Regions from separate parts of the Homo sapiens genome. Here region 2 is linked to region 1. Evidence: fine-mapped expression QTL. A gene starts in region 1. The other region holds a variant in brackets. All regions are shown on one strand. Distances are between the middles of the regions. Region 1 holds the start of MYBL2 (MYB proto-oncogene like 2). Region 2 overlaps SGK2 (serum/glucocorticoid regulated kinase 2).

Region 1 (5,000 bases):
AACCTTCCTAACTCCAGACACCTGCAAGTCCTCATATCCTAATCCCAGCTGAAAAAGCAGAGTCCAGTTAGTGGTGGCAACCACATTGTGGTCCAACATACCCTACCTTTTGCCCTTCAACGTGCTGGGCTCTGCTCCAGGACAGGGGTGAGTCAGAGACAAAGCGGGAAGTGGGGCACTAGGGCAGAGGAGAGTTACAGCAAGTGGCCAGGAAATGGGCTGAGGGCTGTGGAGCTGCCATCCTTCACACAGGAGGGGTTCCTCCACTGAGCCCCTCATGGGAGAAGTAGCCCAGGACCTGGGGTGGTCTAGAGGCAGTCACTCCTGGAATAACTCTTCCTGAACAAAAAATCAGGATGGCGCCAGGCAAGGTGGCTCACACCTGTAATCCCGACACTTTGGGAGGCCAAGTGGGGGAGAATCCCTGGAAGCCAGGAGTTCGAGACCAGCCTGGGTAACATAGTGAGGTGAGACACAACGCGAGGCCACTCCCGCCCCCTTCCATCTCTACACAAAATAAAACACGCCAGACGCGGTGGCTCACGCCTGTAATCCTAGCACTCTGTGAGGCCAAGGCAGGCGGATTGCCTGAGCAACACAGTGAAACCCATCTCTACTAAAAATCCAAAAAATTAGCCAGGCGTGGCGGCGTGTGCCCATAGTCCCAGGTACTTGGGAGGCTGAGACAGAATTCCTTGAACCCGGGAGGCAGAGGCTGCAGTGAGCCGAGATTGTGCCACTGCACTCCAGCCTGGGCAACACAGAGTGGCTCTGTCTCCTAAATAATTAAATAAATTAGCCAGTTGTGGCGGCCCGTGCCCATAGTCCCAGCTACTCAGCCTGCAGTCCCAGCGGGCTGAGTTGGGAAGATCACTTGAACCTGGGAGGTTGGGGCTACAGTGAGCTATGACAGCACCACAGCACTCCGGCCTGGACTGCAGACGGAGACCCTGCCTCAAAAAAAAAAAAAAAAAAAACCAGGGCAGGGTCTGATAGGCGCCTGAACAGAAAACTCTTCCTGGACATTGGCCTGGGAAAGTGGGGCCTGAGGAACACAGTCCCTGTGCTCAGATCCCTATCCTCAGCCTGAAAGGGCAAAAATCTAGAGGGATGGAAGGCTTCATCTTTAGATGAGGCTATCGTCTAAAGAGGGACCGAAGTTTGGCCGGGCAAGGTGGCTCACGCCTGTAATCCCAGCACTTTGGGAGGCCGAGTCGGGCGGAACACAAGGTCAGGAGATCGAGACCATCCTGGCTAACATGGTGAAACCCTGTCTCTACTAAACATACAAAAAATTAGCCCGACGTGGTGACACGTGCCTGAAGTCCCAGCTACTCGGGAAGCTGAGGCAGGAGAATCGCTTGAACCTGGGAGGCGGAGGTTGCAGTGAGCCAAGATCGCGCCACTGCACTCCAGCCTGGGCATCAGAGCGAGACTCCTTCTCAAAAAAAAAAAAAAAAAAAAAAAAGAGGGAACGAAGGTTATCTGAGCTGCAGCGATCCAGGCAGGGAAGAGGTCAGGACCCCACTGTCCTGTCTCCCAGGCAGGCTGAAAAGCTTGGAGCTCAGGCCCCAGGCGCACAGGTGTAAGACAGGGATCTGGAGCCACAGACCTGGCTCCGGGCTCAGCTCTGCCACTTAAGTCTCTGGGGAAATAAGTAAAATGGAGACCGCAGTTCCTGCCTTTGCCCCAGGGACTCTCTCTCTCCCCCGCACCTTCAACCCCAGCTGCCCAAAACTCCTCGTGGGAACAGGAAGAGAGGTCTCAAACCGAACCAAGCTGGGGCGCGGAACCCAGGTGGGAGAGACAAAAGAGCCCCCAACTCAGCACCCTTCTCAGTCCAGGGGAGAGGGCTTGGGGGACTCTGTGCTCCCCGGAATGTTAAGGAGCAAAGCCCACCCACCAAGTTGACCCAAAACTAGGCTGCAACAAGTGCCTCCCAGGCTCGGTCTCCCACTGGCTGGGACTTGAAGACTCCCTCTCGCTCCCAGGGGTCGCCTCCCTCGCCGGCGAAGGCCCTGCCAGCTGACACCGGCCGGCCCACCCCCATCCCGCAATTAGGCGGGAGACAAAATGACATCATGCACGGCTTGGCCCGGGTCCCAAGAGACCCGCCCGTCCCAGCTCCGAGGCCCAACAGGCCTGGGGAGCCGCGAGGGACGCCCAAGAGCCCCCCAGCTTTACGCGCGCCCCTGCCTCAGAGGGCCCAGGACGCAGCATTTCCGCGGAAACACCCCACCCCCAACACACACACACACCCCAGCTTGGTGGGAGCCTGGGGAGGGTCGGGGGTATCTGGGTGGGGGAGGGGTGAGTTAAAGGGAGGGGGAGGGGCCCAAGCCCTCCCGGCTCGTCTCACCAGCGCGTCCGCCGAGACATCCCCCCGGCCCGGACCGCGCCGCGCTCGCCCGCCCGCCGGCAGAGCCCGGAGCGGGAGCCGGGCCGGGGTCAGGACCCGGGCTGCTCCGGCCGCTCCGGGCCCCGGGCCGCGCTCGAAGGCGTCAGCGTGTCAGCAGGTCCCGCGCTCCTCGCTCGCAGGAACTGCAGTCGCCGCCGGCGCGGGTTGAAGCACTTTTCTATCTCCCGCCAAGCGCGTCGGCGCCGCCCAGTCCTGGCGCGCGGGCGCCGGGGGAGGGGCCTGAGTGAGGGGCGGAGCCAGGGGGCGGGGCGGGGCGGGGCCTGCGGGGCGGCACCTGCCCAGACCCTCCAGGGCCGGCTGCAGGACAGGGGCGGCGGCCGCTACTTCGGAGTTGTGGAGCGGGCCGGGATGTGACCGAGGCCTGGCTCACGTGTCAGTCCGGGGCGGCCCAGGAGTATCCCACATAGCGAAGACCGAGGAAGGGGAGCGAGGCGCGAGCATGGGAGAGCCAGCCAGGGAAAGCGCCAGGGCGGAATCCCCCACGCTAGTCCAAGCCACTACTGGGTCCCTAGAGCCGCACCCTAAAGCGGCTCCTCACCCTACCTGTGCCTCTCCCTGCTTCCTCTCCTGCCTCCAAGAGACCCTCCTTAATAGACTTTATTTTTTGTTGTTCATTTTTCTTAGAGGCAGGGTCTTGCTCTGTCGCCCAGGCTGGAGTGCAGTTTCGCGATCATAGCTCACTGCAACCTCCACCTCCTAGGCTCAAGCGATCCTCCTACCTCAACTCACGGGTAGCTAAGACCAGGCACTCGCCACTACACCCGGCTGATTTTTTTTTTTTTTTTTTTTGAGACGGTGTCTCGCTTTGTCGCCAGGCTGGAGTGCAGTGGCGCGATCTTGACTCACTGCAACCTCCACCTCCCGGGTTCAAGCGACTCCCCCGCCTCAGCCTCCCAAGTAGCTGGAACTACAGGCGCACACCACCACGCCCGGCAATTTTTTTTTTTTTTTTTTTTTTTTTTTAGTATTTTAGTAGAGACGAGGTTTCACCATGTTGGCCAGGATGGTATAGGTCTCCTGACCTCGTGATCCGCCCGCCTCGGCCTCCCAAAGTGCTGGAATTACAGGAGTGAGCCACTGCGCTTTTTTTTTTTTTTTTAAGAGAAGGGGGTGTCTTGCTATGTTGCTGTTGCCTAGACTGGTCTAGAAACTCCTGGGCTCAAGAGATCCTGCCGCTTTGTCCTCCCAAAGTGCTGGGATTGCAGGCGTGAGCTCTTTCCAGAATTTAAAACCATCCTCCTCTCCCTCAGGGTAAATTCCTTACTCCACAATCACATTTATCTGATCTTCCAGACCACCACCCAGCCCTGGCCAAAAGAAACGGCCTCTTTGCCTTTGCCTGAGCCATTACCCAGGGCAGGAACACTTCCTGCCCCTCCCACGTGGCTGATTCCTATTTAATTTGGGGTCCACTGCCCACAATCTGCCTGTAGACTTCTGCATTTCCCCCTTTGAACTGGGAGCATCCTGAGGTCCAGGTGGCCTCTCAATGCACACCAGTATCTCCAGGGCCCAGTAGAAGACCTGACATAAGAAGCCCCAGGCAAAGGTTTGTTGCATTGAATTGTTTACCTTGGGTTTAAACTCCCAGAGATTAGCCCAGATTTAGTGGCTCATGCCAGTAATCCTAGCAGTTTGGGAGGCCGAGGTGGGAGAACTGATTCAGTCCAAAAGTTTGAGACCAGCCTGGGGATCAGAGTGAGACCCTGTCTTTACAAAAAATTAAGAAATTACCTGGCTGTGGTGGTGAATGCCTGTAATCCCAGCTACTTGGGAAGCAGAGGCAGGAGGATTGCTTGAGCCCAGGAGTTCGAGGGGCTCAAGCCCTTGTCATCCCGCCACTGCACTCCAGCCTGGGCGACAGACAGTGAGACTGTCTTTCCTTGAGATTTAGCAAAGGTTTTCTATATTAGATTGACATTTACCAAGTACCAAGGATCAAGTCACACTGGACTTCCTGGGAGCAGTGCTGAGAGGAAGATAAATGAGCTCTGAGACAGGACGCTGAAGAAACCAAATCAAACCCCAGCCTTTTAGCCCCTGTTCAGGCCTCAGAGCCCCCTTCCAGAAGCTGCTGGCCACCTGGGGACAGTCCAGCCACCAGCTGCTGCAAACTTCACTTACCACAGAAGGAAGACTAACTCACATCTTAAGTGCTAGAAGCTTCCACATCACTTAATTCAGGGTTTCTCCCGCCCACTCCCCTTATAAAGTAATTAATGTGGACATGCCCACTTCATTGAAAGCACAGCCTCCACAGCCAAACTTCCTGGGGTTTGAGTCCCAGCTCCACCATTCAGTTGCGGTATCTTAGGCAAATTACTTAACTTTTTTTTTTTTTTTAGACCAAGTCTTGCTTTATTGCCCAGACTGGAGTGCAGTGGTGTGATCTTGGCTCACTGCAACCCCCACTTCCCGGATTCAAATGATTCTCCCACCTCAGCCTCTCGAGTAGCTAGGACTACAGGAATGCGCCAGCATGCCTGGCTATTTTTTGTATTTTTGTAGAGATGGGTTTTCATCATGTTGGCCAGGCTGGTCTTGAACTTCTGACCTCAGGTGATCTACCCGACTCAGACTC
Region 2 (5,513 bases), 84 kb after region 1:
CATAGAACAATAAGAGATATTGATACCCTATGAGCTTGTTACATCTCTGTCATTTTACACATTGAGATCAAAATCCAAACACCAGGAGGCCCTCTGGTAAAAGAGTGCTGGCTGCCTACCCAACATTCTCCCCTAATGTCTTAGTGTCAGAACCCCTTTGTTATTAGGGATAGTCACGTACCCAGCAAATAAGCCACATCTCCCAGCCTCCATTCCAGGTAGGGGTGGGTGGTTAGTGAGATGGAAGCAGAAGTCATTGGGTGGAGCTTTTGGGAAAGCTCTTTAAAAGCGCCCTTTGCTCTTCTCCCCTTTCCTCCATTTTCCCTTCCCTAAACACAAAATAGGCAGCTAGAGCTCCAGTAACCATCTTGTAGCAAACCTAACATTGGAAGCCATTTGTCAAGGTTGGCAGGGCAGAGATACAGCCTCTGAGTATCTGATGACCTGTCCTGCCAGTCCTGGACTCCGAAACATTATTTTTCTTTTATGTGCTGGAAAAAATAAACCTGCTTCTCGTTGAAGCCATTGTTAGTTTGAGTCGCTCTTCCTAGCAGCTGAAGGTAATTCCTTACTAATACCAGCTGGCCTCAGTAGTTTCACAGGTCCTTCTCTTCTAGCAATCCAAGATGTCATCATCCTCTGGCGCATAAGAAAATCCCAGGAATGCACTTGAGGCCCCAGAGCTGCTGGCCACAGTGTCAGGGGTACAGCCAATGGACTTGGACACAGCTTCCTGGGTGAACTCTGGGTCAAAATGCTTCAAGTCAGCAGGTCCTGTCTGTCAATAAAAGCCAATGATGAGAAGAAAACACCGGGGTCAGAGCTGCCAAAGGAGCCCAGATCCTCAGAGAGGGATGTCAGGCCTCTGTGAGTGCCCCATGCTTCACAGTCATCCATACTTGACTGTCACTTTCCTGTGCATTTACATTGATCATTTGATTCCTCTCACCCCCTGGTATTCTGCCTCCACACCAATCGTCAGGCAAGTCAGTTAATCAACATAACACTTACTGAATGCCTACCAGGTACTGTTCGTGGCGCTGGGAACACAGGAGAACAAGATAAAGTGAGCCCCTGCATTCATGGAGCTTACATTGTGTGGGGGGTAGGAGGATTGATAATAAGCATATGTACAAATAGGTAACTTAGGATGGTGATAGGTCCTATGAAGAAGAGAAAATAGGGTGATATGGTGGAGATTGACTGGGGCTGCTTTAGCTATTTTGGAGGAAGACCTGTGAGGGAGATTACAAAAATGTTCACAAATTCTCCATTTCCCATCTAGAGGTGGAGTCTATTTCTCCATTCCTTTAATGTAAGTTAGCCATATGACTTGGTTAGGCCAATGGGACATTACCAAATATGACACAAGCAGAGGCTTGAAAATTGCACATCAGGAGTTGCTCTCTTGCTGTACTTCTAACCCTGATGCCACCATGTGAACAGCCCCAGACTAGCCTGCTGGAGCATGAGAGGCTCATGAAGAACTCAGTTGCCCTGGCTGCCTGCCAACTCCCAGGCATGGGAGTGAGGCAATTCTAGATCAACAACTGCCAACTGTCCCGCTAGCTGACCACAGATATGAGAGAGCTCCACAGAGACCAGCTGGCCTGACTCAGACTTAAAAAAAAACACATAGAATCCGAACAAAATAATTTTTTTTAAGAGACAAGGTCTTTTTTGCCCATCACCCAGGCTGGAGTGCACTGGCATGATCACAGCTCACTATAGCTTCGACATCCCAGGCTCAAGCGAGCCTCCCACCTCAGCCTCCTGAGTAGCTGGGCATGCAGCACCACACCTGGCTAATTTTCTATTTTTCTATAAAGATGGGGGTCTCGCCATGTTGACCAGGCTGGTCTTGAACTCCTGGCCTCAAGCAATGCTAATAGCTCGGCCTCATAAAGTGCTGGGGTTACAGATATGAACTACCATGCCCAGCCAAAAGATTGTTGTTTTAAGCCACCTAGCTTTGGAGTTGCTTGTTATACACCAAGAGCTAACCAATACAGTCTCTCTGTGGAGGAGGCCTGGGTTTTATGAAGTAAGCAGGTGAGGAAGGGGAAGGGCTTGCAAATCTGCTTTAGTGTGCAAGTCGGGCTATGGAGCCAAACAGATCACAGTTTCTAGCTTCTCAATAAGGCTACAAGACAAGGTAGTCCCAGCCCAGCACTCAGAGTTCCAAGATCAGAATGTGCATCCTGGCCCTTATTAGTTGTGTGACTGTAGAAGAAAATGATACTAAAGAGACTTACTGAAGACCTCACAAATGGTAGGTGACAAAACCAGGAATCCAGCTCCGGAGTGTCTCATTCTAAAGTCCATTCATCTCTGCCTAGTATTCCATGTATGGTTCTCTCTCCAGGGTATAAGTTCGACATTATCTTCACTGTCTTTTTAAAATCCCAACGAAAAGAAGCTTTTCTGGTGCCTGGCCCGAGTGTATCCTATCTGATCCAGTGCCCAAAGACAAGTTCATGAATAGGTAATTAAACAAATGAGAAATGTAAATGGTGAATTAACATTGGCAGTGTTTGATATGCAGGCTGTTTCGATGGAAGGGGCTTGGCACCATGCTTTACAGGTAGACCACACAGCTTCACACGCCCACCTCCAATAGGACTCCTTTCATTCACACTGCCACTACCAATTAACATTGCAAAACTAGCACTTTGGGAGGCCAAGGCAGGCAGATCACTTGAGGTCAGGAGTTCAAGACCAGCCTGGCCAACATGGTGAAATTCCGTCTCTACTAAAAATACAACAACAAAAAAATTAGCCAAGCATGGTGCTGAGCGCCTGTAGTCCCAGCTACTCGGGAGGCTGGGGCATGAGAATTGCTTGAACCTGGAGAGGCAGAGGTTGCAGTGAGCTGAGATCGTGCCACTGCACTCCAGCCTGGGCAACAGAGCAAGACTCTATCTCAAAAATATAAAAATAAAAGCCAGGCGCGATGGCTCATGCCTGTAATCCCAGCACTTTGGGAGGCTGTGGTGGGTAGATCACTTGAGGTCAGGAGTTCAAGACCAGCCTGGCCAACATAGTAAAACCCCATCTCTACTAAAAATACAAAAATTAGCCAGGTGTGGTGGCATATGCCTGTAGTCCCAGCCACTCGGGAGGCTGAGGCAGGAGAATTGCTTGAACCAAGAAGACAGAGGTTGCCATGAGCTGAGATCGTGCCACTGCACT[C/A]CAGCCTGGGCAACAAAGTGAGACTCCACCTCAATAAAATAAAATAAAATAAAAATAAAAATAAAAATGAAAATAAAAACTGGCCAGGTGTGGTGGCTCACACCTGTTATCCCAGCACTTTGGGAAGCTGAGGGGGTGGATCACTTGAGCCCAGGAGTTCAAGATCAGCCTGGGCTACATAGAAAAACATCATCTGTACAAAAAATACAAATTAGCTAGGTGTGGTGGCACCCACCTCCCAACTACTCAGGAGGCTGAGGTACTCAGGAGGCTGAGGTAGGAGGATGGCTTGACCCCAGGAGGTGGAGGTTGCAATAGGCAGAGATCATGCCACTGCACATCAGCCTGGGTGATAGAGTGAGACCCTGTCTCAAAAAATAAATAAATTTAAAAAACTAACCATCTTTACTATAAGACAAAGAAATATAAATTAAAACAATTAAGAGATGCTGTTTTTTACTTACCAAATTTGCAAAGTAAAAAACAATAACCACACATGCTTCAGAGTGCAAGCAAGATGAGAACTCTCCAGCAAGTGCCGCTGGTAGGAAGTAGATGGTTCTCCCTTCCACACAGTGAAAAGGTGGTGTGAATCAACAACCTAAAAATGGCCAGGTGCGGTGGCTCACGCCTGTAATCCCAGCACTTTGGGAGGCCAAGGCGAGTGGATCACTCGGGGCCAGGAGTTCGAGACCAGCCTGGCCAATATGGTGAAACCCCGTTTCTACTGAAAATGCAAAAATTAGCCAGGCGTGGTGGCGCATGCCTATAATCACAGCTACTCGGGAGGCTGAGACATGAGAATTGCTTGAACCTGAGATCGTGCCACTGCACTCCAACATGGGCGATCGAACGAGACTCTGTCTCAAAAAAATAAATAAATAAAATAAAAATAAAAAAAGAATCTAAAAAACATTAGCATTGGGAATTCCCCATATGGAATCCATCTTAAAGAAATGACCAGAATTCTGGGCAAAGACATATACTTAAAGCTGTTCATCAGCACATCATGATAAAGAAAAAACATAGTAACAACCATAAGATTGCCATTAGGAACATGGGTAAGTAAATTATGTTACCAACATAAGATGGAAATATTATGCAGCCACTAAAAATTGTATTTATAAAATTTTTTATGACATGAGGAAATTATAACATAGTTTTTAGCCAAAAAAGGAGGAAGATAATATAGATGAATAAACACACACACACATATAGATACTATAAAGTAGGACCTAATTAGGTTAAAAACAAAACAAAACAGGCCAGGCACGGTGGCTCACGCCTGTAATCCCAGCACTTTGGGAGGCCGAGGCGGGCGGATCACGAGGTCAGGAGATCGAGACCATCCTGGCTAACATGGTGAAACCCCATCTCTGCTAAAAATACAAAAAATTAGCCGGGCATGGTGGTGGGCGCCTGTAGTCCCAGCTACTCAGGAGGCTGAGGCAGAAGAATGGCATGAACCCAGGAGGCAGAGCTTACAGTGAGCCGAGATTGTGCCACTGCACTCCAGCCTGGGCAACAGAGTGAGACTCCATCTCAAGAAAAAAAACAAAACAAAACAAACAAAAAAAAACACATAGAAAAGTGACTGGAAGGAAATATGCCAGTGGTTTCCCTTAAGTAGTGAGATAATAAGCATTTCGCCACTGCTACTTTAAACTTTTCTGTTTTACATACATTCCCTTTTTTTTTTTTTTTTTTTTTGAGATGAAGTCTCCCTCTGTTGCCTACGCTGGAGTGCAATGGCATGATCTTGGCTCACTGTGACCCTTGCCTCCCAGGTTCAAGCTATTCTCCCACCTCAGCCTCCCGAGTAGCAGGGATTACAGGTGTGCACCACCATGTCTGGCTAATTTTTGTATTTTTAGTAAAGATGGGGTTTCACTATGTTGGCTACACTGGTCTTAAACTCCTGACCTCAAGTGATCTACCCGCCTCAGCCTCCCAAAGTGCTGATACTACAGTCGTGAGCCACTGTGCCTGGCCAGTGTTTTACATACTTTTTATAAGGATATATGTCATTTTTATTATCAGGAAAAAGTCTATAAATAGAAAAGGATAAAATATCTCTAAAGGGCTTGGCCCTATGTGGGTGTGCTGTGCGAAACAGAGCACTTCACAAACTGTAAAAGTCTCTGCAGCCAGAGTTATTTATTGGTGCTCAAGACAAAGGAGCAGCAACATGGCTGTTTATCCAAGAGCTGCACCTGTAGTCAGGCCCAGTTCTGTCTCTAACTGACTGTGTAGCCTAGGACAAATGACTGAGCTTCTTGGACCCCCAAGTTTTCCATCTAGATAAGGAGAGTTGGCAAGCA

The links. PIP is the estimated chance that this variant, and not a neighbour inherited with it, causes the effect.
Region 2: its variant is the best candidate, but not a certain one, in a credible set for the expression of MYBL2 in whole blood (INTERVAL, PIP 0.73).

The regions. Positions count from the first base shown.
Region 1 is chr20:43,664,663-43,669,662 of GRCh38, reverse strand. MYBL2 (MYB proto-oncogene like 2) reads right to left here and starts at 2,549. Exons shown (of 14, transcript NM_002466.4): 1 at 2,360-2,549. The coding sequence starts at 2,379. RefSeq lists enhancers at 1,644-1,693, 2,460-2,754 and silencers at 2,344-2,723, 2,460-2,754.
Region 2 is chr20:43,580,117-43,585,629 of GRCh38, reverse strand. It overlaps SGK2 (serum/glucocorticoid regulated kinase 2), which reads right to left. Exons shown (of 13, transcript NM_170693.3): 13 at 3-778. The coding sequence ends at 614. Among named protein-coding and RNA genes, the nearest start is that of IFT52, 8.1 kb to the left of the region's middle. The variant C/A (reference allele first, on the strand shown) is at 3,193.